Linked DNA regions of Homo sapiens. The protein of the gene in region 2 interacts with the protein of the main gene of each other region in a biochemical or structural test. Each region holds a gene or a part of one and is shown on either strand. Other genes may lie near its edges. The genes, in order: ARHGAP21, PDLIM2, LIMK2, MAST2, ARHGEF11, ABCC4 and DOCK4.

Region 1 (3,500 bases), on a different chromosome or scaffold from region 2:
ACTGCAATCCAAGGGGGATATAGATAAACTTGTAACTGGTATTCCTGAAAGTGCAGGGTGTTTTGAGAGAATACACTAGGGGCAACTGAAAGAGTCTTGCGGGTCAGGGAAGGCTTTCCTGAGGAAGCAGTATTGAAGAAAAGACCAGTATGATGAGTAAAAATCAGCCATGGAGCAGAGGGAGGAGGAACAGGGGACAGTAGAGGGAAGGGTAGAAGAAAGGACCTGACAGGAGTTCAATCTAGGAAGAACAAAAAGAAGTAACAAGTGAGACAGAAGCGCGGACCAAATTACCAAAGTCCTTTCAGACTTCACAGAGGTCTGAATTTTATTTCAAAGGAAATGGGAAGACAGAAAATTGTCTTATAGGAGGTAATGTAACGATCAGCTGGAGTACAGTGGCGCGATTTTGGCTACCTGCAACCTCTGCCTTCCGGGTTCAAGGATTCTCATACCTCAGCCTCCAAACAGTTGGGACTACAGGTGTGCGCCACCACGCCCAGCTAATTTTTGTATTTTTAGTAGGGACCGGGTTTCACCATGTTGCTCAGGCTGGTGTACAACTCCTGACCTCAGGTCATCTGCCCATCAGGAGGATCATTCTGATTACAGTAGGGACAGAGCTGCGGAAGGGGACAAGGCTAAGTTATTGGGAAACTCCGTAGGGAATCTGTTTCTGTGGTTCATCAGTGAGATGCAGCTGACCTGAACTCAGGTGGGGGTAGTGGGTATTGGGAATGTGGACTCCACAAGACTTTGCATATGAGGAATGACGAGACGGAAGAGTGAGAATGCTGACCTAGTTTTTGACTTGGACCAATAAATAGATGGTAGTGCTACTCAGCGAAAGAAGGTGCACAGGAAGAGGGAGAGTCAGCGGTAGCGGTGAAATCTGATGAGTTTGCAATGCCTGGGGAATATCCCCCAAAAGTGTTCGGTAAATAGGCAACTGGCTGAAAAGGTCTAGAGATCAACCATAAAGCCTGAGATAGAGGGGTAGATACGGAGTCACCAGCACACAGGAGAGTGCAAAATAAAACCCAGGGAGTGAGAAAGAGAATACAGGAATGGAAAGGCCTTGGCTCTGGATAAAACCAACAATGGGGCAAGAAGAGGAAGAAAAACCCTACAAAAGAGGCAGATAGAGAGGGAGATAGAAAGGAGGGGAGGAGAAGAGAGAGCGCCTGAGAAGGAACTAGGGAGTCTGGGATGAAAGCAAAAGCAAACTGTCCAGCATTCCAGAAGGAAGAGTCAACACATGGATTCATACAAACTCGTACCCAGAAAAATGTCTTATTGTATTGTTTACAGTATTTCAAAATCAACCAACAAGTGTATTTCATCAGCCATAATACATTTCAGTCATAGAATAATCTTAGCCTAGGTCAAGAAGCAAAACAAAAATAAGTTCATTTGCATTAGTAAAAAGTTTAATAATAAAGTGACAAAAATTCTATTACTGGACAAGAGTATGGACTACAGATAAAAAATGAAATAAATGTTAGAAATGGAAAAAAAATCATGTGGTTAAGAAAGCTGAGGGAAAGTTTTCTCTTCTTTGGCTTAAAAAAAAAGTTAAACCTTGAAAGATGAAGCTATATGGATATGAAAAGGGGTGATAATATCATAGAGGATTCAACAGAAGAATCTATATAAAGTGATTTTGTGAGCAAAGTTACTCAAGGATTGGTGTCAGAAGACTTCACGGACTACACACACACACACACACACACACACACACACCCCAAAAATCACTTAAGAGGTTCAGAGTGAGTGATTTCAAGTTTTAAAAATACACCTTGAGATGTATAAAAGTATATAAATTCGTGTGAGTACCATCTGGACCATCCTTACTGTATAATGCCAAGACATATTCTACTGAACTGTCCTAATTTCTTATTTGAAGAGGGCTGTTTATTTGTTTTGAGGCTTCCAATATATCCTGGGGGTGGGGAGGCCTAAATGTATATCATATATCAACACAATAAAATTGCAATGCTTAAGATGAACAAGAAATCTCTGATTGTTTTTCAACAAAGCACAAGGCCTTATTCAGAGAAGGTGGAGTTGGCTAATTAGATAAAGCATGAAACAGAGACTCCTGTTAATTCATTACATTGATTTCTTCTGTCCTATAAAGTTAGGTTTTCTTGGCTGATTAACAGCATTACTATTAAGACACACATGCTCATCTCTTTGTTAGTTAAAAACACAATAATAAATGTAGTATCCAAACACATTATTGATTTTTAAAATTTTTTAAAGAGTGATAGTACCACTGTGGAATGTAGTGCTTCTAATAAAATTGACGACAAAAATTAAATGCAATGTTCAAAAACCTAAATATCAGCCCAAAGTATTTCATTAGCAACTAACTCCCTATTACTAAAAAATATTCACAAGATTTAATGTGTATCAGAAGCATCAATCACAGATTAAAACACGTCACAACTAAATACAGGCAATAATTACACAAGTTCTCTTCACTCCCAACCCTGAGGTTTTAAAATGTTTTCTGACAACATATATCCCCTTTATTTCCACTTCCACATAGAATCTAGGCAAAATACCTATTCTTTAGAAAGTCAAATAATATTGTAGTTTAATACCAAACCTAAATACTGTATATATATTTCACATAAGCAAAACACAGGTGATATTGTGTTTTCTTCATTGCTAAACTTAAAAACAAGATAGCCATGCTGCCAGCAGTAAGGTCCAAATGAAAACAAATTTCACAGCCGTTAAAAAATACATAACTGTCATTGTTAATAAAAGCCAAGTGTGCAACAAACTGGAAATACTGCTTGCTAGCCAAGGACAAGATGTGTCTAAATTCTTGGTTTCAGGACATCTCTTAAATGACCAAAAAAAAAAAAAAAAATCAAATAACATTAGTTCTTGCAAACAGAATGCAAATACAATGCTAATTAAAGTATTCACAAGACAATGACAAATAAGGCTTCAGGACCACAATACATATTATTATGTAACTGCAATACACATTAAGCAATCACCAGGTTGCAGGTAGGCCTTCCAAAAGGAGTTATTATGGTTTACCGTGATCAGAGGATTGTGGTGTTCCACTTAATCATGCTTTTGCCTGCAAGCAGGTGTTTACAGATGTCAAAAAGTAAAACACTGATTCTAAATGTAAACCTACAGTTCTGCCTAATAAATTGTACAGTAATAGCACACTGTACCTCACAACGTTTTCTGCATAAACTTTCTAATTCGACATGAAGTAAGCTGCATGAAGCAAGTTTCTCCGCTTGCTTTATGAACCAAAATTTAACTTCTGATTCATTTTTATTAAAATGCCAAAACTCACACACTTAGAGCCAGCCCTTGTTTCAAGGACTATGAAGTTAAAATTTAACATCCGGTGCAAAAGAAAGTGAGACAGTGAATGAGGGTTCATTTGGGTATGTTATTGTCTAAAGTAATCCTCAACCCTTCAATGAAAACATAGGCATCTCAAAAGTAAAATTTAAAGGATA
Region 2 (3,500 bases):
CAGTAATCAGGCCGGGCGCAGTGGCTCACACCTGTAATTTCAGCATTTTGGGAGGCCGAGTCGGGCGGATCACCTGAGGTCAGGAGTTCAAGACCAGCCTGGCCAATACGGCGAAACCCCGTCTCTACTGAAAATACAAAAATTAGCCGGGCATGCTAGTGGGCACCTGTAGTCCCAGCTACCTGGGGGGCTGAGGCAGGGAGAATTGCTTGAACCCAGGAGGTGGAGGTTGCAGTGAGCCGAGATTGCACCACTGCGCTCCAGCCTGGGTGACAGAGCGAGACTCCATCTCAAAAAACAAAAAAATCAGTAATCTTCCCCCAAATCAATCTACAAACCCGAGGCTGAGTGATATCAGTGACAAAGTCCAGGCAAAATAGAAAAAAAAAAAAAAAAAAAAAAAAAAAAAAGGGCAGGATAATGTGAGGACTCTCTAATAAAACTGAATGTTTGAACTTTCTGATGAAGTTATGTACGTTCTACTTTTTAGAACCAAACTATCCTTTCTTTTTTTGGGGTGGGTTTTGCTGTTGTTACTGTCGTTTGAGATGGAGTCTCACTCTGTCGCCCAGCCTGGAGTGCAGTGGTACAATTTTGGCTCACTGTAACCTCTGCCTCCCTGGGTCAAGCAATTCTCCTGCCTCAGCCTCCCAAGTAGCTGGTGTTACAGGCATGCGTCACTATGGCTTGGCTAAATTTTTTTTTTTTTTTTTTTAATTAGAGATGGGGTTTCACCTTGTTGATGACCAGGCTGGTCTGGAACTCCTAACTTCAAGAGATTCACCCTCCTTGGCCTCCCAAAGTGCTGGGATTACAGGCGTGAGCCACCGTGCCCGGCCTTGGTGTTTTTTTGAGACAGAATCTCGCTGTGTTGCCCAGGCTGGAAGGCAGTGGCACAATCACGGCTCACTACAACCTCCATCTCCTGGGCTCAAGCGATCCTCCCACCTCAACCTCCCAAGTAGCTGGGACTACCGGCATGCACCACCATGTGCAGCTACTTAAAAAAAAATTTTAGTAGTCATGAGGTCTTCCTATGTTGCCCAGGCTGGTCTTGAACTCTTGGGCTCAAGTGATCCTCCTGCCTTGGCTTCCCAAAGCGTTGGGATGATAGGCGTGGGTCAATGTGCCTGGCCAACTGTCCTTTCTTTTAAGGAACCATGGTTGTCATTGATGATAGTTGTTTGTCTTGAGTTTGACAAAGTTAAAAGTTGACAACCGGATGTCCAAATTTTCTGTAGCTTTTACTGGTGTTGAGAACTAGATCTGGGAACAGTTTTGGCCTCTTTTGGGGGTTGCAGGGTGCAGGGCCCCTGTGACATTCCCTCCCTCTGTTGCCTTCTCAGGTCTCAGGCTACGTCTCCAGGGCAGACCAATGGGGACAGCTCCTTGGAAGTGCTGGCGACTCGCTTCCAGGTAAGCTGGTGCCCTCCCCTGACAGCCTCAGCACCCTGATCACTGGTGCATGAAAGTGAGGCCCGAGGGCAGGGCGGCCTTGGCGGGGCAGCCCTGCCTTTCCTGACACAGTCACTCTCTCCACAGGGCTCCGTGAGGACATACACTGAGAGTCAGTCCTCCTTAAGGTCCTCCTACTCCAGCCCAACCTCCCTCAGCCCGAGGGCCGGCAGCCCCTTCTCACCACCACCCTCTAGCAGCTCCCTCACTGGAGAGGCAGCCATCAGCCGCAGGTGAGTGTGCCTGTGAGTGGGTACCCTGGTCGCCTGCGCTGCCAGCTCCAGGCTGGCTCCTCTGAGTCTCAGGAGCTCTGCTTGGGAGCCCGGGGCAGCATCCTCCCTGGGCAGGCTGGGGGTGGCCCTGGCACACACTGTCCCTTTCCCACTTTCAGCTTCCAGAGTCTGGCATGTTCCCCGGGCCTCCCCGCTGCTGACCGCCTGTCCTACTCAGGCCGCCCTGGAAGCCGACAGGTGAGGCTCCCTGGGGGAGGACAGGCTGGAGGAACAGAAGCACCTCCCGTTCCTGTGGGTTGCCAGTGCCCCGGGACTGCAGGCGGCCAGGCCCACCTGGGCAGCCATGGCCTCCTTCTCCTGGCCACAGGCATGCTCTGCTCCTGAGCCAGGGAGGCCATGCTTCTGGTCGTGGGCCACCTGTGCTGTGCCCAAGACCTGCCCAGCAGTGCCCAGTAGCCCGTCCATCTCCTGCACCCCTCCCCTCATCCCCCTCCCCTCCCATCCTGCTGACTTCCTCCCTGCCCAGTATGTTTCTCTTGGGCTGTGGCTGAAATAGTTTCGCTGCTGTTGTTGGGATGATTCCCTTTCGTCTCTGGCTGCATCTCTCGAACACATTCCTCCCCATTCCAAGACCCGGGCCTGCCTGACTCCCACCCACACCCTCCCTTCCTCCTCTGACTCAGCCCAGAGATGCCCCAGTGGGACTGCGGTTCTGCCTTGAGCGCTCTTGGCTTATTCTGTCTCCTCCTCCCCCTACCCCCGCCAGCTCCCCTGGACTCTCTTTCAGCCAGGTCCCAGTGGCCCCTGGTGACAGCCTAACCCCCTTCCTGGGTGGTATTTCTCCTCTTCAACGGTGGGGGATGGTGAGGGAGTGAGGCAGCCAACAGCCCTGGGCCGCAGCTGCTGGGGACGGCGTGGGGGGCACGTCCAGCCTTTGGGGTGATGGGGATATGGCCCAGCTGCTGAGCCCTACCTTTGGGTTGATTCTGCATTCCAGAAAGCAGAGCCTTTGGGGGTGGCCAGGGAGGGCACTAGAACCCAGAGGCTCTGGAGGAGGAAGGAGCAGGATCTTTCTGGGGGCCTTCCGAACAGCGGCTGCCTAGTGACCCGCTGCGTGCCCACCCAGAGGCCAGCCTGGCACTGTGGCCATAGAGATATATTCCATGGGTCCCCTTGTTAAGGAATTGAAGATGCAGTTGTAGAGATAAGGCAAACTTGCAAAACAATTTTGGAGCAATTAGGCACTAAGCAGTGTGGTATTAATTACAAAAGCAGGAGGCGTTCTGGGAGGGGAGGGGAAGGAAGGCTGTGTGAGGAGTATTGCTGGACGTTAGAGGTGGTGGTGAGAGGGTTTAGGGAAGGATGAGCAGGAGGCCCGACATGCTGGGAGATGGAGAAACACTGGTCCGGGCGACGGCTGATGTATTGGGGCTGGGGGATTTTTTAGGGGGAACCTTTGTTCTGAGATGAGCCAGGAATGAGCTTGTTTCAAGAGGGCTGGTCAGTGTCAGTCCTGGCTCTGTTCCGCGACACCTCTGGTGGGCTGTGGTCTCAGCAGGACCCACGTGCTCAAGGGCAAGCCTTCCCGAGCTTCCCCATCGTGTTGCCCCCAGTCCAGGAAAATGAAGGGTGTGGGAGGTACAGAGGCATGGCTCCCAAACCAGCGGCAACACCTGAGAACTTGTTGGAAATGCAACTTCCCAGGCTCCAGCCTACACCCGCTGAATTGGGCATGGGGCTTGTGGGTCACGAGCCCAGAGCTGGGTGTGGGGAGACTCACTTGGGTCGGTCCCACCTCTGCCTGACGACTTG
Region 3 (3,500 bases), on a different chromosome or scaffold from region 2:
AGAAGCATTTCTCCAAAAGTAGGAGTCTTAATCATGTCTGATGTAGGTTGAGTGTGGCCAGAAAAGGGGCTGTTAAGTATAGAGGGCCTGGATTATGAAAATCCAGCAGATCCATTGAGAGTTTAAGCAGCAAGGTGTTGTGACCAAGTTAACATTTTAGAAGGATCACTGGTATGGAGGTTGGATTGGAGAGGGGAAAGCCTAAAGGTATAGAGACTAGTTAGGAAGCTATTGTAGGCTGGGCATGGTGGTTCATGCCTGTAATCTCAGCACTTTGGGAGGCTGAGGTGGGAGGATTGCTTGAGGCCAGGAGTTGAAGACCAACCTGGCCAACATAGCAAGACCCCGTCTCTGTTTTTCTTAATTAAAAGAAAAGTCCAGACGTAGACATAGTGGCTCACGCCTGTAATGCCAGCACTTTGGGAGGCCAAGGTGGGCAGATTGCTTGAGGTCAAGAGTTTGGGATTAGGCCAGGCGCAGTGGCTCACGCCTGTAATCCCAGCACTTTGGGAGGCCGAGGTGGGCGGATCACAAGGTCAGGAGATCAAGACCATCCTGGCTAACACAATGAAACCCCGTCTCTACTAAAAGTACAAAAATTAGCCGGGCATGGTGGCGGACGCCTGTAGTCCCAGCTACTCGGGAGGCTGAGGCAGGAGAATGGCATGAACCTAGGAGGCGGAGCTTGCTGTGAGCAGAGATCACGCCACTGCACTCCAGCCTGAGCGACAGAGCGAGACTCCATCTCAAAAAAAAAAAAGAGTTTGGGATTAGCCTGGCCAACATGGCAAAACCCCATCTCTACAAAAAGTACAAAAAAATTAGCTGGGTATGGTGGTGCGCGCCTGTAATCCCAGTTACTCAGGAGGCTGAGGCATGAGAATTGCTTGAGCCTGGGAGGTGGAGGTTGCAGTGAGCCCAGATCATGCCACTGCACTCCAGCCTGGATGACAGAGTAAGATGCCATCTCAAATAAAAATTAAAAACAAAGTTTAAAAAAAAAATAGAAGCTATTACCGTGATCCAGGTAAGAGATGTGAATAACTACAATGATGGAAAGAAGGCAGAGTTCTTAGAGATGGGAGTAGGAGAGATGAGGGAACTCCAGATTGGGAAGATGATGTTCAAGTTTCTGGCTTAGGCCACAGGGTGAGTGGCAATTCCCTTCACTGAGATGGGGCATCCTGGAAAAGGTGTTGCCTTTCTGTGTGGGTATCCTGGGCCCCTTAGGGGCCACTGGTGGCCTGGGACCTGGTAAACCTTCCCTGCACAAGCAGAATTGGTCAAGCAGGTTTTTAGGACATCTTTACCCTGCCTCAACTCTTGTCTGGCCCAGGGTCAACCGGATGCACATCAGTCCCAACAATCGAAACGCCATCCACCCTGGGGACCGCATCCTGGAGATCAATGGGACCCCCGTCCGCACACTTCGAGTGGAGGAGGTAGAGTGTGTGTCTAATCTGTCTTGTGAGGGTGGGACATGGAACAGATCCTCTGAGAAATCAGGCTGTAGCCTTTACCTTTTCCTACCCCCAGCCCATCTCTTTGTCTTAGCATTGAGCCTGTGACCACTGGTGACCTATTTCAGCGTAACAGGTTCCCAGGGTAGCAGGGATGGTTGATGGACGGGAGAGCTGACAGGATGCCAGGCAGAGGGCACTGTGAGGCCACTGGCAGCTAAAGGCCACCATTAGACAAGTTGAGCACTGGCCACACTGTGCCTGAGTCATCTGGGTTGGCCATGGGTGGCCTGGGATGGGGCAGCCTGTGGGAGCTTTATACTGCTCTTGGCCACAGGTGGAGGATGCAATTAGCCAGACGAGCCAGACACTTCAGCTGTTGATTGAACATGACCCCGTCTCCCAACGCCTGGACCAGCTGCGGCTGGAGGCCCGGCTCGCTCCTCACATGCAGAATGCCGGACACCCCCACGCCCTCAGCACCCTGGACACCAAGGAGAATCTGGAGGGGACACTGAGGAGACGTTCCCTAAGGTGCCACCTCCCACCCTGGCTCTGTTCTGTCCTATGTCTGTCTCTCGGATGAAGCTGAGCTGGCTTTCAGAAGCCTGCAGAGTTAGGAAAGGAACCAGCTGGCCAGGGACAGACTATGAGGATTGTGCTGACCCAGCTGCCCCTGTGGGGATCACAGTTTACAGCCAGAGCCTGTGCGGACCCAGCTGTCTGCCAGGTTTCCTTAGAAACCTGAGAGTCAGTCTCTGTCCACTGAACTCCTAAGCTGGACAGGAGGCAGTGATGCTAAACCCTGAAGGGCAACATGGCCTATGGAGAAAGCATGGAGCTCAGAGCCTGGAGTAGGGGCACAGATAGGATTGAATAAATTGTGTAGAAAGACTTTGAAAACAATAAAGCAAAAGATGAATGAACGTTTTTTTTAGACTTGAGGGACCAACAACCCCCAAACCCCAGATTCTGCCAGGTCCATGGGGAAGGAGAAGTTGCCTTGAGTGGAAGCCCCAAGTAGGGAGACTTACAGAAAAGAAGTCAAGAGCACTGGCTCCCAGGCAGAAATACTGATACCCTACTGGGGCTTCAGGCTGAGCTCCTCCCTTCACAAATCACTTCATCTCTCTGAGCCTGTTTCTGCATCTGTGACATAAGATGGTAAGATAAAGGTGGCTGTCTCACCAATTATGTAAGGATTAAATGTGGAAAAGGACATAAAGTTGTATAGTGCTGCCATAGGGACAGTGTTCAGTAAACGTGACACATTCTTAGTATCACTAAGAATCAGGTTCTTGGCCAGGCACCGTGGCTCATGCCTGTAATCCCAACACTCTGGGAGGCCTAGGTCGGAGGATGGCTTGAACACAGGAGTTTGAGACCAGCCTGAGCAACATAGTGAGACACTGTCTCTACAAAAAAAAAATAATAATAATAATTGTTTTTAATTAGATGGGCAGGGCACTGTGGCTCACACCTGTAATCCCAGCACTTTGGGAGGCCAAGGCCGGAGGATTGCTTGAGGCCAGGAGTTCAGGAGCAGCCTGGGCCACATTCCTGTCTCTACAAAGAATAAAAAACTTAACTGGGCATGGTGGCACATGCCTGTAATCCCAGCTACTCAAGAGGCTGAGGAGGAGGATTGCCTGAGCCCAGGAGTTCAAGACTGCAGTGAGCCTTGATCACACCACTGTACTACAGCTTGGGCAACAGAGTGAGACCTTGTCTCCAAAAAAAAAAGTTTGTTTTTTTTTATCCACTCTCCTCACCAAACAAACTGAGTAAGTTAGAGCCCTCTCAGCTGGCATGTGTTGGAAACAGTGCCCTCTCATTAAAGTGCTGCCCTCACTCCCATTGCCTCTTGGCCTTGGTCAGTATGATGAAATTAGTGGGAGGCAGGGCAACAGAGGGCAGGGAAGAGCTAGAAATCCATGGCCTGGAAAAGGGAAGATTTGGGAGTGGCCAGGTATCTGTAGAGCCACCATGCAGAGGAGGGGGGCAGCTAGCCTTGTGTGCTCTGGTGGGCATGGTCAGCAG
Region 4 (3,500 bases), on a different chromosome or scaffold from region 2:
GTGCTCAGTCATTATTTATTGAATGAATGAATGGAGAATGATTCAAATATTTTGAATTTTGGTAATTTGAGTAATAATGGTTATATGATAGGAGTAGACAAAGGAAATAGAATATTTTTGAGGATGGCAGAAGATGAGTTCAACTTTAGTTCCTAAAATACCCTCAGTGTGACAGAAATTTTAAAAAATTATTTTAATGGAAATCAGAACCTCTTTCCTCTGCATTACAGGGTTAGTACATTGGGAAAAGCATAGGGCAGAAAGCACACAGAAGGGAAGCTGCGTAATATATATAGGGAACTATAATCGGTTTGTTATTGCCAGACCCAGAGCTTTACGTTGAAGGTGTAAATGCTAGGTTAGAGATTAAAGAAGCCTTGATTGTTGAGGGTCTTTAGTGTGATATAAAAGGATAATTGGCTGGGTGTGGTGGCTCACGCCTGTAATCCCAGCACTTTGGGAGACCAAGGTGGGTGGATCACCTAAGGTTAGGAGTTTGAGACCAGCCTGGCCAACATGATGAAACCCCATCTCTACTAAAAATACAAAAATAGCCAGGCGTCTTGGTGGGCGCCTGTAATCCCAGCTACTTGGGAGGCTGAGGCAGGAGAATTGCTTGAACCCGGGAGGTGGAGGTTGCGGTGAGCCAAGATCGCGCCACGGTACTCCATCCTGGGCGACAGAGCGAGACTCCATCTCAAAAAAAAAAAAAAAAAAAGGATAATAAGTAGGGGAGCAGTATATTCTTTTTTTTTTTTTTTGAGGCAGTCTTGCTCTGTGGCCCAGGCTGGAGTGCAGTGGCACGATCTCAGCTCACCGCAACTTCCACCTCCCAGGTTCAAGCTATTCTCCTGCCTCAGCCTCCCAAGTAGCTGGGATTACAGGCATTGGCCACCATGCCTGGCTAATTTTGTATTTTAGTAGAGACGGAGTTTTTCCATGTTGGTCAGGCTGGTCTCAAACTCCCGACCTCAAGTGATCCACCTGGCTCGGCCTCTCAAAGTGTTGGGATTACAGGCGTGGGCCACCGTGCCTAGCCGAGAGCAGTATATTTCTTTTTTTTTTTTTTTTTGAGACGAAGTCTCGCTCTTGTCTCCCAGGCTGGAGTGCGATGGCACGATCTCGGCTCACTGCAGCCTCCCCCTGTGGGGTTCAAGCAATTCTCCTGCCTCAGCCTCTCGAGTACCTGGGATGCCACCACGCCCAGCTAATTTTTGTATTTTTGTATTTTTTTTTTTTTTTTTTGAGACGGAGTCACGCTCTGTCGCCCAGACTCGAGTGCAGTGGCGCGATCTCGGCTCACTGCAAGCTCCGCCTCCCGGGTTCGCGCCATTCTCTTGCCTCAGCCTCTGGAGTAGCTGGGACTACAGGCGCCCACCACCACGCTCGGCTAATTTTTTTGTATTTTTAGTAGAGACGGGGTTTCACTATGTTAGTCAGGATGGTCTCGATCTCCTGACCTCGTGATCTGCCCTCCTTGGCCTCCCAAAGTGCTGGGATTATAGGCGTGAGCCACCGCACCCGGCTTTTTTTTTTTTTTGACACAGAGTCTCACTTTGTCACCCAGGCTGGAGTGCAGTGGCCTGATCTTGGCTCACTGCAAGCTCTGCCTCCCGGGTTCCCGCCGTTCTCCTGCCTCAGCCTCCCGAATAGCTGGGACTACAGGCGCCCGCCACCACGCCCAGCTAATTTTTTTGTATTTTTAGTAGAGACGGGGTTTCACTGTGTTAGCCAGGATGGTCTTGATCTCCTGACCTCGTGATCCGCCTGTCTCGGCCTCCCAAAGTGCTAGGATTACAGGCGTGAGCCACTGCGCCTGGCCTAATTTTTGTATTTTTAGTAAAGATGGGGTTTCACCATGTTGGCCAGGCTGGTCTGGACCTCCTGACCTCAGGTGATCTGCCCGCCTTGGCCTCCCAAAATGCTGGAATTACAGGTGTGAGCCACCGCGCGCGGCACAGGAGCAGTATATTCTTATTTGTGTTTTAGTTGGATTACTCTGGCAACTGTGTGGAGGATAGGATGCAGGACATGCTGTTTGAGACATGAGCATTTGAGAAATCTTCCGAGTTTTCAGTGCAAAAGTTTATTTGACCTCCTTTCCCTCTTATCCAGGGTATGGGTAAGGGCTAGCTCCTAAAAAGGTGTTAACTTTGAAATATTTAGTTTCATCAAAAGTACTGGGAGCAGAGAGTCTATGGTGGCTTGAAGCAGGTTGGCAAATGTTCCCTGATGAGGGTAGGACACATGTGATTACAGAGTTTTCCCATCATTGTTCTGGATGTCTCTTGGCCTAAAGATCAATCTGTAAGCCTTTTTTTTTTTTTTTTTTTTTAGACGGAGTCTCGCACTGTTGCCCGGGCTGGAGTACAGTGGTACCATCTTGGCTCACTGCAACCTCCGCCTCCCAGGTTCAAGTGATTCTCCTGCCTCAGCCTCCCAGTAGCTGGGATTACAGGCATGTGCCACCACGCCTGGGTAATTTTGTATTTTTAGTAGAGACTAGGTTTCTCCATGTTGGTCAGGCTGTCTCAAACTCTCGACCTCAGGTGATCCGTCCACCTCGGCCTCCCAAAGTGCTGGGATTACAAGCATCGGCCACTGTGCCTGGCCCTACTCCTATTTTTAATAGTCCGTGTAACATTTTCATTTGGATAGCTCAGAGACCTCTCAAACTTAACATGTCCAAAAATGAAGTCTTGATTTTCACTTTCTAGTCTGCTTCTTCCCCAGTCTGCCTCATGTCAATAGATGGCACTACTCATTTACCAGAACAAAACTGGAGGTTGTGTTTGATTTTTTTCTTAACCTTACCTGTATTCCACATTCAGCCCCTCAGGTCTGTTTGCTGCTACAGTTGTCCCTCAATATCTCTCGGGGATTGAGTACATGACCCCCTGCAGATACCAAACTCTGGTATGCTCAAGTTCTATCTATAAAATGGCATAGTATTTGCATGTAACCTATGTATATCCTCCCATGTACTTTAAATCATCTCCAGATTATTTATAATATATAATACAATGTAAATGCTATGTAAATAACTGTTACACTCTATTACTTAGGGAATAGTGACAAGAAAAAAATATCTATACATGTTCAGTATAGATGGAACTATTCATTTTCTTTTTCTCTGCATACAGTCATGTTCCGCATAATTATGTTTTAGTCAATGATGGATGACATACAAGATGGGGGTCCCATAAGATTATTATTATTATTATCATTTTTTTTTTGAGACCGAGTCTTGCTCTGTTGCTCAGGCTGGAGTGCAGTGGTGCGATCTCAGCTCACTGGAACCTCTGCCTCCTGGGTTCAAGCAATTCTCCTGCCTCAGCCTCCCAAGTAACTAGGATTACAGGCAGCCGCCACCACGCCTGGCCAATTTTTTTTTTTTTTTTTTTGAGACGAAGTTTTGCTCTTGTCCCCCAGTCTGGAGTGCAGTGGCACGATCTTGGCTCACTGCAACCTCTGCCTTCCGGATTCAAACAATTCTTCTG
Region 5 (3,500 bases), on a different chromosome or scaffold from region 2:
CATTCCCTCCACAGGTCTCTTGAGAACCCAACCCCTCCATTCACTCCCAAAATGGGCCGCAGGTAAGTGATGGGCACGGTGGTGCCTCTGTTTGGTGTCTCTGTGTCCCATCCACACCCAGCTGCTCCTCTCACCTGCAAGGGGCTGGTTGGGTGGCTGTCTCCTCTTCTGGGCCCACTGGTTTCCCATGTGCATGGGGCAAGCAGGTCGGGCAGGAGAGGGAGGGCCAAACCCTCTGTGTGAGTTCTTCCTCCTAAATGAAGCTGAGCTGCCTGTTTTCCCCCAGGAGCATTGAGTCCCCCAGTTTGGGGTTCTGCACAGATACCCTCCTTCCCCACCTCCTAGAGGATGATCTGGGCCAGCTGTCTGACCTGGAGCCAGAGCCAGATGCCCAAAATTGGCAGCATACAGTGGGCAAGGATGTGGTGGCTGGGCTAACCCAGCGGGAGATTGACCGGCAAGAGGTCATCAATGGTGAGAACGTGCTCCACTGCCCCCAGCTCCGCTCACACGTGTGGGAATAGGTCCAGAATGCCTAAGACACAAGGGTGGGAAAGAGGTAAATAGGGTGGGGGGCCCCTGTGTGCTGGAGCAGGTCCACATTGCCTGTTGCTATAAGGTTCCCCTCAGTTCTGGCCCTTGGAGTAAGAGAAAAGTTGCTGTATGATCTGAAACTGGCACTTCAGTTCCCCCAAAAATAGAGTGGTGTGGGAACCAGGTCAGGGACTCTAGATACTTGCTGATCCGTTTTCTCCCTGGCTTTCTACCCTCCTTGTCACAACCACCGCTCAGAGCTGTTTGTGACTGAAGCTTCCCACCTGCGCACACTCCGGGTCCTGGACCTGATCTTCTACCAGCGAATGAAGAAGGAGAACCTGATGCCCCGGGAGGAGCTGGCCCGGCTCTTCCCGAACCTGCCTGAACTCATAGAGATTCACAGTAAGGAGCCTGTGCCCCTCCAGACTCCTCTTCTGCTGCCCTTCAGCTTCCTGTTCCACTTTGGCCCCACTGCCAGGACCTCCCTGAGTAGGTAACCTCCCACCAATCCCTGGTGAGAAAAAGATCTGTGGACAGCCTGAAACCAGCACTGGAGTTCACCCCGAAAGTACAATGGTTTCCAGACCCTTCCCATGGCACTGCTGTCAGAGATTCACTTCTCTCTGTCAGAAAGGTTCTGGCAGTTGAGCTCAACCCCAGGCATTTCTATTTGTTCTCTTCCTGCCCCAGATTCCTGGTGTGAAGCCATGAAGAAGCTCCGGGAGGAAGGCCCCATCATCAAAGAGATCAGTGACCTCATGCTGGCCCGGGTATGGCTCCAAACTTCTCCCTCTTGGCAAGGAGGAGATTGGGGGAGGCAGGGTCTCATTACCCAAGGCCAGAGAATTTGGCAAAGGCAGGGGTCTGGTCCCAGGCAGGGGTTTGATGCCTGGCCCCGTGTCCATTCTGCCTCTTCAGTTTGATGGCCCTGCCCGAGAGGAACTCCAGCAAGTGGCTGCACAGTTCTGTTCCTATCAGTCAATAGCCCTAGAGCTAATCAAGACCAAGCAACGCAAGGAGAGTCGATTCCAGCTCTTCATGCAGGTGCGTCCTTGGCCATGCCTTGGCCTTCCTTCATCTCCATCAAGGTCACCAAGGATCTCCTGAACTTCTCTCCTTCTGGCCACATCATCCCTGTCTACAGCAACTCCCTCTACCCTTCGACACACGCTCCTCAAAAGCACTGACTCACTCTAGACAAAGAGACTTCTGTTTGTTGGAAAGAATCCTGGATTAGCAGTCAGAGGCCTGGCTCACCCACCAGCACCTGTGTGTCCTGAGATGGATCTCAGTTTCCTTGTCTATAGAATGGCAGCAATATGCCTGCCCTTCTGTTTTGACCATATCCCTTTGGATTGGTGTCTCCCTGCCACCACACACCCTTCTCTACATCTTTAAGGAAGAAGCTTCCACTGCCATTTCTGAGTGATCCATCTGGCGTTAGGACCTGTTTGTCATGTTCACACCCATCTTGGCCCTGAGCCCATAAGCCAGCTCCCAGCCACGCTGACATCTCCTCCCTTCTGTGTCTCCTGCTGTCTAGGAGGCTGAGAGCCACCCTCAGTGTCGGCGGCTGCAGCTGAGAGACCTCATCATCTCTGAGATGCAGCGGCTCACCAAGTACCCGCTGCTGCTGGAGAGCATCATCAAGCACACAGAGGGTAGCACCTGGGGAGGGGCTGGCATCACAGGCAGTGGGCCTCGTGCCAGACCCTCATTCTGACACTGCTTTGTGACCTTAGCAAGTCACTGTGCCTTGTGGTCTTTGGTGTCTTCGTCCTTTTTCTGTTGTGGGGTGTTTCAGAGAAGAAAATGATTGTAAATGTCCTTTGGAAAATATAAGGTGTTTAATAGTGGGAGGAGTAGGGGCCACCATCGAAGGCCACCTGTGTGGGCCTTTGTGCAAATCCAAGGAAAGCATCCGGTGCCCAACACAGGCTGGCACTCAAGGGCACCTGGGTCCCTCTGGTTGCATGGGGCTGGATTTTATCCCCATTCATGCCCCCTGCAGTGCACAAAAGACACAGCCTATGTGGTTACACTAGAGGGGCAGGGGACCAGACTGAACAAGAGGGTCTAGCCTCAGGTTATCACTCTCCCTGGGATCCTGGGCATCTTTCACTACCCCCAAATTTCAGACATTGGAGTCAGGACAGAGAGGTGTTAGGAACCCCAATCTGATTTGAACAGGCTTTCTAGAGGCATAATTGTGGCCATTTACCACAGTCTCTGTCCCTTGCATCTGTAGAGCTGGTTGTAGTAGAGGCAGGGATTCCCAGGAGCTATCAGCGTCTTCAAAGCAGTGATCTGTCTGAGACCTGAAGATGCTCAGTAAAAGTTACCCTTACCACTTGGGGTCCTCATGTGAGGCAAGGGTGGCTCCCCTCCACCCACGCCTGCTGGTTTGAAGCAAGCCAGCTGCCATGGATGAATAGGCAGATAACAGCTGGCGCCATGTTGGACTTCTCAGGCAGGAGCCCCAACCATCTCTTCTGTCCATTTTGGTAGGTGGCACCTCTGAGCATGAGAAGCTGTGCCGGGCCCGGGACCAGTGCCGGGAGATTCTCAAGTATGTGAATGAAGCGGTAAAACAAACAGAGAACCGCCACCGTTTAGAGGGCTACCAGAAACGCCTGGATGCCACCGCCCTGGAGAGGGCCAGCAACCCCCTGGCAGCAGAGTTCAAGGTAGGAGGCAGAGGCTGCAGCAGTCAACCCCTCACACTTTGTGGGTACCCTTAGGAGCAGAACACTGGTCAGGGCTTGGAGAGTCTTAGAGGTAGGAGACAGAGACCAGATAGGGTGGCACAATGGAGCCCCAGAAGACACACACCCTGCTATTGTCACCCTGTCCCTAGATGGACAAGGCAGGCCGCCCCACCTAAGAAAGACTAGATGTTGGAACTCAGCCTGAGAGAGCAGGGGATGGGGTAGAACTGGAGGTAAGGTGGAGATCTTCTGGGA
Region 6 (3,500 bases), on a different chromosome or scaffold from region 2:
CTCAAAAATTAAAAAATTAAAAACAAAAAATAAAATAAAAATAAGGCACTCAAATGTTTGCTAAATGAATAATCTAAACCGCAGAGGATCAAGGCAGTAACCTTGGCCTCCCAGACACCGATCAAGTAGAATTGGACACCAAAGACTGAGAAAGACCTGAGAAACGTGGCTCCCAAATCTCAGCATCTGAATCAACCAGGAAATAATGCTTTAAAAAATGCAGATTTCAGGATGCTCAACCCCAAGAGACTGTGATTCTGCAGACACAGAAATTTACTATTTGGCCGGCCACAGTGACTCACACCTGCAATGTCAGCACTTTGGGAGGCCAAGGCGGGAGAATCACTTGAAGCCAAGAGTTTAAGACCAACATGGGCAACACAGCGAGACCTGGTCTCTACCAAAAATGTATTAATAAAAATTACTGGCCAGGCACAGTGGCTCGCCCCCGTAATCCCAGCACTTTGGGAGGCCGAGGTGGGTAGATCACAAGGTCAGAAGATCAAGACCATCCTGGTCAACATGATGAAATCCCATCTCTACTGAAAATACAAAAATTAGCTGGATGCAGTGGCGTGCGCTTGTAGTCCCAGCTACTCAGGAGGCTGAGACAGGAGAATCACTTGAACCCTGGAGGCAGAGATTGTAGTGACCCAAGATCACGCCACCGCACTCCAGACTGGGCAACAGAGCAAGACTCCGTCCCCCGCCCCTCAAAAAATTAGCTAGGTGTCCAGGTGCGGTGGCTCATGCTTGTAATCCCAGCACTTTGGGAGGCCAAGGAGGGCGGATCACAAGGTCAGGAGTTCAAGACCAGCCTGGCCAACATACTGAAACCCCATTTCTACTAAAAACACACAAAAAAATTAGTTGGGCATAGTGGCAGGCACCTGTAGTCCCAGCTACTTGGGAGGCTGAGGCAGGAGAATCACTTGAACCCAGGAGGCAGAGGTTGCAGTGAGCTGAGATCACACCACTGCACTCCAGCCTGGGTGACAGTGAGACTCCGTCAAAAAAAAAAAAAAAAAACACTTTAGCTAGGTGTGGTGGCGTGCACCTGTAGCTCAGCTACTTGGGAGGCTGAGCTGGAAGGATCACTTAAGCCTAGGAATTTGAGGCTACAATGAGCCATGATTGCATCACTGCACTCCCACCTGGGCAACAGAGCAAGACCCTGTCTCAAAACACACACACACACACACACACACACACACACACACACACACACACACAAAAACACAAAATTAAATGGCCAGGAATAGTGGCTCATTCCTGTAATCCCAACGCTTGGGAAAACCAAGGCAGGAGGACTGCTTGAGCCCAGGATTTTGAGACCAGCCTGGGCAACATAGTGAGACCTCATCTCTACAAGAAAAATATTTTTTTTATTATAGAAAAAGAAAATATAAAATTAAACATTTGATGCATTGACTGAGGGCCTCACACACCCTTCCTCTCTAAGCCATCCCCTGCCCTCAGCCACTTGTGTTTGCTTCTATAGTCATGTCATCAGCTCTCTAGGGCAGGTCTCCAGAGAGTCTGTCTGGTCACCAGTGGCAGTTTCCACAGCAGCACAGGCTTTGCAAGATGACACTTCACCCACTGAGATATGGCCAGCAACAGGGGAGCAAGGATTTAACCACTTTCTGTGGGCCAGATGCATCTGGAGATCCCTCTCAATGCCCATATTTAGGGAAAAGTCCTTCGTTGTTAGCCTCCACCCTGCTGCTGACCCCAGATCACCTCTGGATCAGGTGTGGGCAGAGGAATGCAAAGTGCCTGCCGGGCACCAGGGGGCAGCAGGACAATTCCTAGGAGAGTCTCAGGGATTGACCCATCTTGTGCCCAGCTGGCCACAGTTCATAGGCTATGCCACTTATTTCCACTAACGGGAAAGAGGAGGAATTATTCAATAAATGATAATGGGGAAAACGAGCTGTTTGGGGAAAAAATGGGGACTATCTCATATCAAATACCAAAAGAAATTCTAGCTGCCTTTATTGTTAGAAATGAAACAATAGCTAAAAGAAAATGGAAGGCCAGGCACAGTGGCTCACACCTGTAATCCCAGCACTTTGGGAGGCCGATGCAGGTGTATCACCTGAGGTCAGGAGTTCGAGACCAGCCTGGCCAACATGGTGAAACCCTGTCTCTACTAAAAACATGAAAATTAGCCAGGTATGGTGGTGGGCACTTGTAATCCCAGCTACTTGGGAGTCTGAAGCAGGAGAATCACTTGAACCCTGGAGGCGGAGGTTGCAGTGAGCCGAGATCACACCACGGCCAGCCTGGCAACAGAGCTAAAACTCTGTCTCATAAAAAAAAAAAAGAAAGAAAAAAGAAAGAAATAGGTGAAAATACTACCTTTAAAAATCCACAATTGCCAACAGCCATAATGCATGACTCCTTTTAGACTCCAAGTCCAAATTATGCTATAAATACACCAAAATCCCGGGAAAATACTTTGAATAAAAGTCAGTAAGCCAGTTATTGGCATCATTTAGGTAGGCAGCTGCCAGTTCACAAGTTCAGAAAGCAGATGATATTTGAGAAGAAAAGCAAACACTCAACAAGAAGGTGAAAAAGCAGTTTTTCCCTACAAGGTGGGCCCTGTCTCCAGGCAGCCACTTCCTGGATGGGCTCATTTCAGCTTTCCACTGGCAGTGGGAAGGGTACACAAATACTGACCTAAAAGCAGGAGGCTAAGGCACAAAATATAACTCAAGAATTTACTACAGACCCAGTGTGGTGGTTCATGCCTGTAATCCCAGCACTTTGGGAGGCCGAGGCAGGCAGATCGCTGGAGCTCAAACTCCTGAGCTGTGGATTACAGTGTCCTTGGGGCACTGTTAGGTTAATCTGTAGCTATGTGGCAATATGAAGTACTTTCGAGTGATAAGTAAATAGCTCAAGGGGGTGGGAACTACGAGGTGACTGCTGTGTCATTTTAATGTCTCTCTGGGCCTGATAATTTAAAAGGACTCCGCATTCCTCAGATGATGATTATTATTATTTTCTCACTATGAGGCCTCAGACTTTAAAATCCCTCAAACTGGCCCAGGCACAGTGGCTCATGCCTGTAATCCCAGCATTTTTGGAGGCCAAGGCGGGCAGATCACCTGAGGTCAGGAGTTCAAGACCAGCCTGGCCAACATGGTGCAACCCCATCTCTACCAAAAATACAAAAATTAGCTGGGTGTGAGGGTGCACGCCTATAGTCCCAGCTACTTGAGAGACTGGGGCAGGAGAATCACTTGAACCCAGGAGGCAGAGGTTGCAGTGAGCAGAGATTGCACCACTGCACTCCAGCCTGGGTGACAGAGCTGAGCAACAGAGAAAGACTCCGTCTCAAAAAAAAGAAATAAAGAAATTTTAACAATTAAAAATAAAGAAAAGCATAATACTGTAATAATACTCCAATGAAAGGAGTAGCTGGAAGCAGTAAGCGCCTCAAATCAGGATCACCTGGAGCACTTGAAACCTCACCACCCCCACCCACA
Region 7 (3,500 bases), on a different chromosome or scaffold from region 2:
TTTTCGTAACTGATGTATAGGCACCGTCCCATTTAATGAATGATTAAATTCATTAAAACAACGAAAAGTCAGTCATAAGTGTTCTGATTTTAGGAAAAGGTATAGTGATGAAGTTATAGTTCTGAGGAACAGGGAACCTTGTCTTTTAGAAATCATGTTAAGAGGCACAGTGATAGGCAATTTCACCTTAGGAGATTCTAGTTAGCTCTTGATTCTGGGCTAGACACTGCTGCCAGCTGTGTAACCTTAGGTAAATCACTTAGCCTTTCTGGGTCCCAGCGTCTGGGGCAAGTGTTAACTAAAGCCTTCCCTGGTACTAATTTTGTAGAGCTCTTCCAACTAACTGTGTTCTTTGGTTAGAAAAACATCTTCATTGTGTTGAGACTGCTATGACAGAGACACTTTTGTTGTGACATATCTCACTTGGTTTTTAAGTAAGATCAGAGGTAAGCAAACGCTACCTGGCAAGCTGCCAGAACTGAGGTGCTGGTTCCTCTCTTTCTCAATTTGTTTGATTCTCTCTGGCTAGTAGGAGCTCCATGGGCAGTGACTGAAGCATTTTGTTTGTTTTTTAAATGTATTTTCCTTGACAAATAATAATAATATATTTTTTAAGTTTTCATTTTTTTTTTTTTAATTTAGAGACAGGGTTTTGCTCTGTTGCCCAGGCTGGAGTGCAGTGGCTATTCATAGGCGCCATCATAGTGCACTATAGCCTGTAGCCTCAAGCTCCTGGTTGATCGCCTCAAGCAATACTCCCACCTCAGCCTCCTGAGTAACTGGGATTACTGACATGCACCTTCTCACCCAGCTGTATATATTTATGGTGTACAGTGTGATATTTTGATGTACGTTTACAGTTGGAGTGATTAATCAGGCTATTAACAAATTACACCTCATATAATTACCATTTTTGTGGTGTAAAAAACATTTAAAATCCATTCTAGCACTTTTGAAGTATACAATGCATTGTTATTTATTGTATCTCCATTCTGTGGATATCACCTCCCATCTGTTAGAATGGCTGTATAAAAACAATGAAAGGTAACAAGTATTGGTGAGAGTGCAGAGAAAAGGGAACGCTGTGCACATGTTAGTGGGAATGTAAATTAATACAGCTGTTATGTAAAACAGCATGGAGGACCTTCAATGAACTAAAAATAGAATTACCATATGATCCAACAATTCCACTGCTTGGTATATATTCACAGGAATTGAAATCAGTATGCTGAAGAAATATCTGCTATCCCATGTTCATTGAAGCAGTTCTCAAAATGTCTGAGATATGAAAGCAACCTAAGTGTCCATCATCAGATGAATGGGTAAAGAGAATGTAGTATCTATACACAATGGAATATTATATAGTCTTGAAAAAGGGGAAAATCCTGTCATTTTCAGTAATGTGGAGGGTATTATAGTAAATGAAGTAAGTGTAAGTCTGGCACAGAAAGATAAGTACTGCATGATCTTGCTTACATGTGCAATCTAAAGAAGTTTACTTCATAAATATAGAGATTAAAGTGATGGTTGCCAGAGTCTGGGGGAAGAGGGTGGTTGGGGAAAGTGGAGATGATGATCAAAGTGTACAAAGTTTTGGTGAGACAGGGGGAACATGCTTTAGTGATCTATCGCACAGAATGGTGACTAAAGCATTCTTGATCGCATACTCACCAATTTCCTCAGATTACCTCTACCTCCTGCATGTCCTCATCTGTTAGCACACCCCCCCATTCCTCCCCCCTCCCCACCCCGCCTTAAAGTGGTGGGAATTATTCATGGAGAAAGCTAAGACCTTTGCAGATTGTTTTTGCGTTCATTTGTCCAACAGGCTTTTATGCACAGATTCACAGATGAGTCATGGCATCTTCCTGAGCTGAAGGCTGCACCCCTCAAACCTAGCCAGATGTTTTACATGTGTGAGCTTAGTTAAGCTTGACAGGAGAACACGGGCTGGATTGATCGGTGCAGAAAATCCATGAACCTTATAAGAAACAAAACTCAGAACAAGCTGATCTGAAGTCACAGTGTCATTTAAAAAATAAATTGTGTGGTGCGAGTATCACTCAGTCATCACATAAATTCCTGTATTCTATTTTTCTTGAAGGAGTTTTTGAACTCATCTGGGTAGGAATCATGTTCCTTTTTAAAGCCCCTTCTATGTTGGTGGAAGAAGATGCACCTTCTCGTATTCATACAGGATAGTTAGGTGTCTTTCTCCTTAGAAAGATGCTTTAATCATAGCGTATGTGTGTGATAGAGCGTAATAAGGATGTGTTTCCTTTACTCTTAGTTTTTTGTAGTTTCTTAGCTAACAGTTTCTTAAAGTGTTTTCTATTAGTGGTCCTATGATGTATCTACATAGCATGTAAAGCTAAATAATAATGTTCTGCTTGGAATTGTTTGTGACATTTAGAGCCTGACACAGGATTCTAAACTTTAAGTGGGAATAGAAGAGAAATGATTTATACCTCCCAGTAAAATACCACCGAAGGGCCATACAGACAGTGGGATAGCAGCTTATGTTCTTGATCTGGCCTCCTATGGGAATGGTCTATAAAAATGTTCCCCTCTTTTGGTCATTCCCCTAAGTGACAGTTCTTCACAAGGCCCCTGAAGCCACATAGAGATGCTGCTCTTCCTCTATGATCTTGTTTTTTTTTGTTTTTTTTTTTTTATTTTAGAGGCTGTTATGGTAGCTAGTACGAGGGAGATTATACAAATTTCAAGAAATTTAGGATTTCCTATCTCTAGCTCTATTCTTTTCCAAAAGGAGACAACATTTTCTGAGTTATGTTTGATACAATATGTCTATGTTTCTATCACAGTGACTTCATGCTGTGAATATATACATCAGAGGAACATTAAACTCTAATGAAACCCTTCTAAAAGGCTGTAACCGTAACACAGTAATACAATGTTTTACTTAAAAAGTGAAATTATTTTATCTGAGTCTACCCTTTGAAGTTGAATGGTAATTTCTATTTAAGAGATGAGAAAACAGTTTCATAGAGTTTAAGTGACTTACTCTAGATTAGTAGCTTTTAATCTTGTTTGACTATTACCCATAAGAAATATAGTTAATTTCCTGACCTAGTATATATATAAATATCCCCCAGTACCACCCCACACACATATAATTAAAACAGCACTTGCTTATACTCTATGTAATGTTCTATTCTTTTTTGTTAAAAAAAATACTTGTCACTAAATTGACTTGTTAATGGGTCCTGACCCACAGTTTGAAAAACACTGCTTTAAATGCTACATTTGTGATACCAGAAGGACTGCAACTCACATCTTACTGGGTTTCTGTGAAGTTCCTTTCATGACATTGGCAAGGAGTTGATGGTGGTGGTGGTTATTGTCTTTGATAGTCAGATATGTGGGTTTATTTTAACAAAGAATTTAATTATCCTTTTTTCCTTCAGTCTAAGTCAAAGTCTGTCTTCTGTAGTATTTCTTATTAAAGATGGAACAAATATTTAAAGCCATCACATGCA

Evidence for each region.
Region 1: the proteins of PDLIM2 (region 2) and ARHGAP21 interact in a test that uses a peptide from one of them, tested with the Homo sapiens proteins (one large-scale study listed by IntAct).
Region 3: the proteins of PDLIM2 (region 2) and LIMK2 interact in a test that uses a peptide from one of them, tested with the Homo sapiens proteins (one large-scale study listed by IntAct).
Region 4: the proteins of PDLIM2 (region 2) and MAST2 interact in a test that uses a peptide from one of them, tested with the Homo sapiens proteins (one large-scale study listed by IntAct).
Region 5: the proteins of PDLIM2 (region 2) and ARHGEF11 interact in a test that uses a peptide from one of them, tested with the Homo sapiens proteins (one large-scale study listed by IntAct).
Region 6: the proteins of PDLIM2 (region 2) and ABCC4 interact in a test that uses a peptide from one of them, tested with the Homo sapiens proteins (one large-scale study listed by IntAct).
Region 7: the proteins of PDLIM2 (region 2) and DOCK4 interact in a test that uses a peptide from one of them, tested with the Homo sapiens proteins (one large-scale study listed by IntAct).

What each region holds. Positions count from the first base shown.
Region 1 is NC_000010.11:24,717,388-24,720,887, forward strand, and holds part of ARHGAP21 (rho GTPase-activating protein 21), read right to left. Parts: intron 1-3,500. UniProt on the Homo sapiens protein: Functions as a GTPase-activating protein (GAP) for RHOA and CDC42. Downstream partner of ARF1 which may control Golgi apparatus structure and function. Also required for CTNNA1 recruitment to adherens junctions.
Region 2 is NC_000008.11:22,583,475-22,586,974, forward strand, and holds part of PDLIM2 (PDZ and LIM domain protein 2), read left to right. Parts: intron 1-1,346; coding exon 1,347-1,416; intron 1,417-1,542; coding exon 1,543-1,688; intron 1,689-1,846; coding exon 1,847-1,925; intron 1,926-3,500. UniProt on the Homo sapiens protein: Probable adapter protein located at the actin cytoskeleton that promotes cell attachment. Necessary for the migratory capacity of epithelial cells. Overexpression enhances cell adhesion to collagen and fibronectin and suppresses anchorage independent growth.
Region 3 is NC_000022.11:31,260,798-31,264,297, forward strand, and holds part of LIMK2 (LIM domain kinase 2), read left to right. Parts: intron 1-1,336; coding exon 1,337-1,442; intron 1,443-1,797; coding exon 1,798-1,994; intron 1,995-3,500. UniProt on the Homo sapiens protein: Serine/threonine-protein kinase that plays an essential role in the regulation of actin filament dynamics. Acts downstream of several Rho family GTPase signal transduction pathways.
Region 4 is NC_000001.11:45,810,112-45,813,611, forward strand, and holds part of MAST2 (microtubule-associated serine/threonine-protein kinase 2), read left to right. Parts: intron 1-2,337; exon of another isoform or gene 2,338-2,460; coding exon of another isoform or gene 2,461-2,478; intron 2,479-2,836; exon of another isoform or gene 2,837-2,889; coding exon of another isoform or gene 2,890-2,916; intron 2,917-3,500. UniProt on the Homo sapiens protein: Appears to link the dystrophin/utrophin network with microtubule filaments via the syntrophins. Phosphorylation of DMD or UTRN may modulate their affinities for associated proteins. Functions in a multi-protein complex in spermatid maturation.
Region 5 is NC_000001.11:156,944,743-156,948,242, reverse strand, and holds part of ARHGEF11 (rho guanine nucleotide exchange factor 11), read left to right. Parts: intron 1-14; coding exon 15-62; intron 63-286; coding exon 287-474; intron 475-792; coding exon 793-939; intron 940-1,227; coding exon 1,228-1,307; intron 1,308-1,455; coding exon 1,456-1,581; intron 1,582-2,080; coding exon 2,081-2,198; intron 2,199-3,045; coding exon 3,046-3,224; intron 3,225-3,500. UniProt on the Homo sapiens protein: May play a role in the regulation of RhoA GTPase by guanine nucleotide-binding alpha-12 (GNA12) and alpha-13 (GNA13). Acts as guanine nucleotide exchange factor (GEF) for RhoA GTPase and may act as GTPase-activating protein (GAP) for GNA12 and GNA13.
Region 6 is NC_000013.11:95,294,952-95,298,451, forward strand, and holds part of ABCC4 (ATP-binding cassette sub-family C member 4), read right to left. Parts: intron 1-3,500. UniProt on the Homo sapiens protein: ATP-dependent transporter of the ATP-binding cassette (ABC) family that actively extrudes physiological compounds and xenobiotics from cells.
Region 7 is NC_000007.14:112,199,900-112,203,399, reverse strand, and holds part of DOCK4 (dedicator of cytokinesis protein 4), read left to right. Parts: intron 1-3,500. UniProt on the Homo sapiens protein: Functions as a guanine nucleotide exchange factor (GEF) that promotes the exchange of GDP to GTP, converting inactive GDP-bound small GTPases into their active GTP-bound form. Involved in regulation of adherens junction between cells.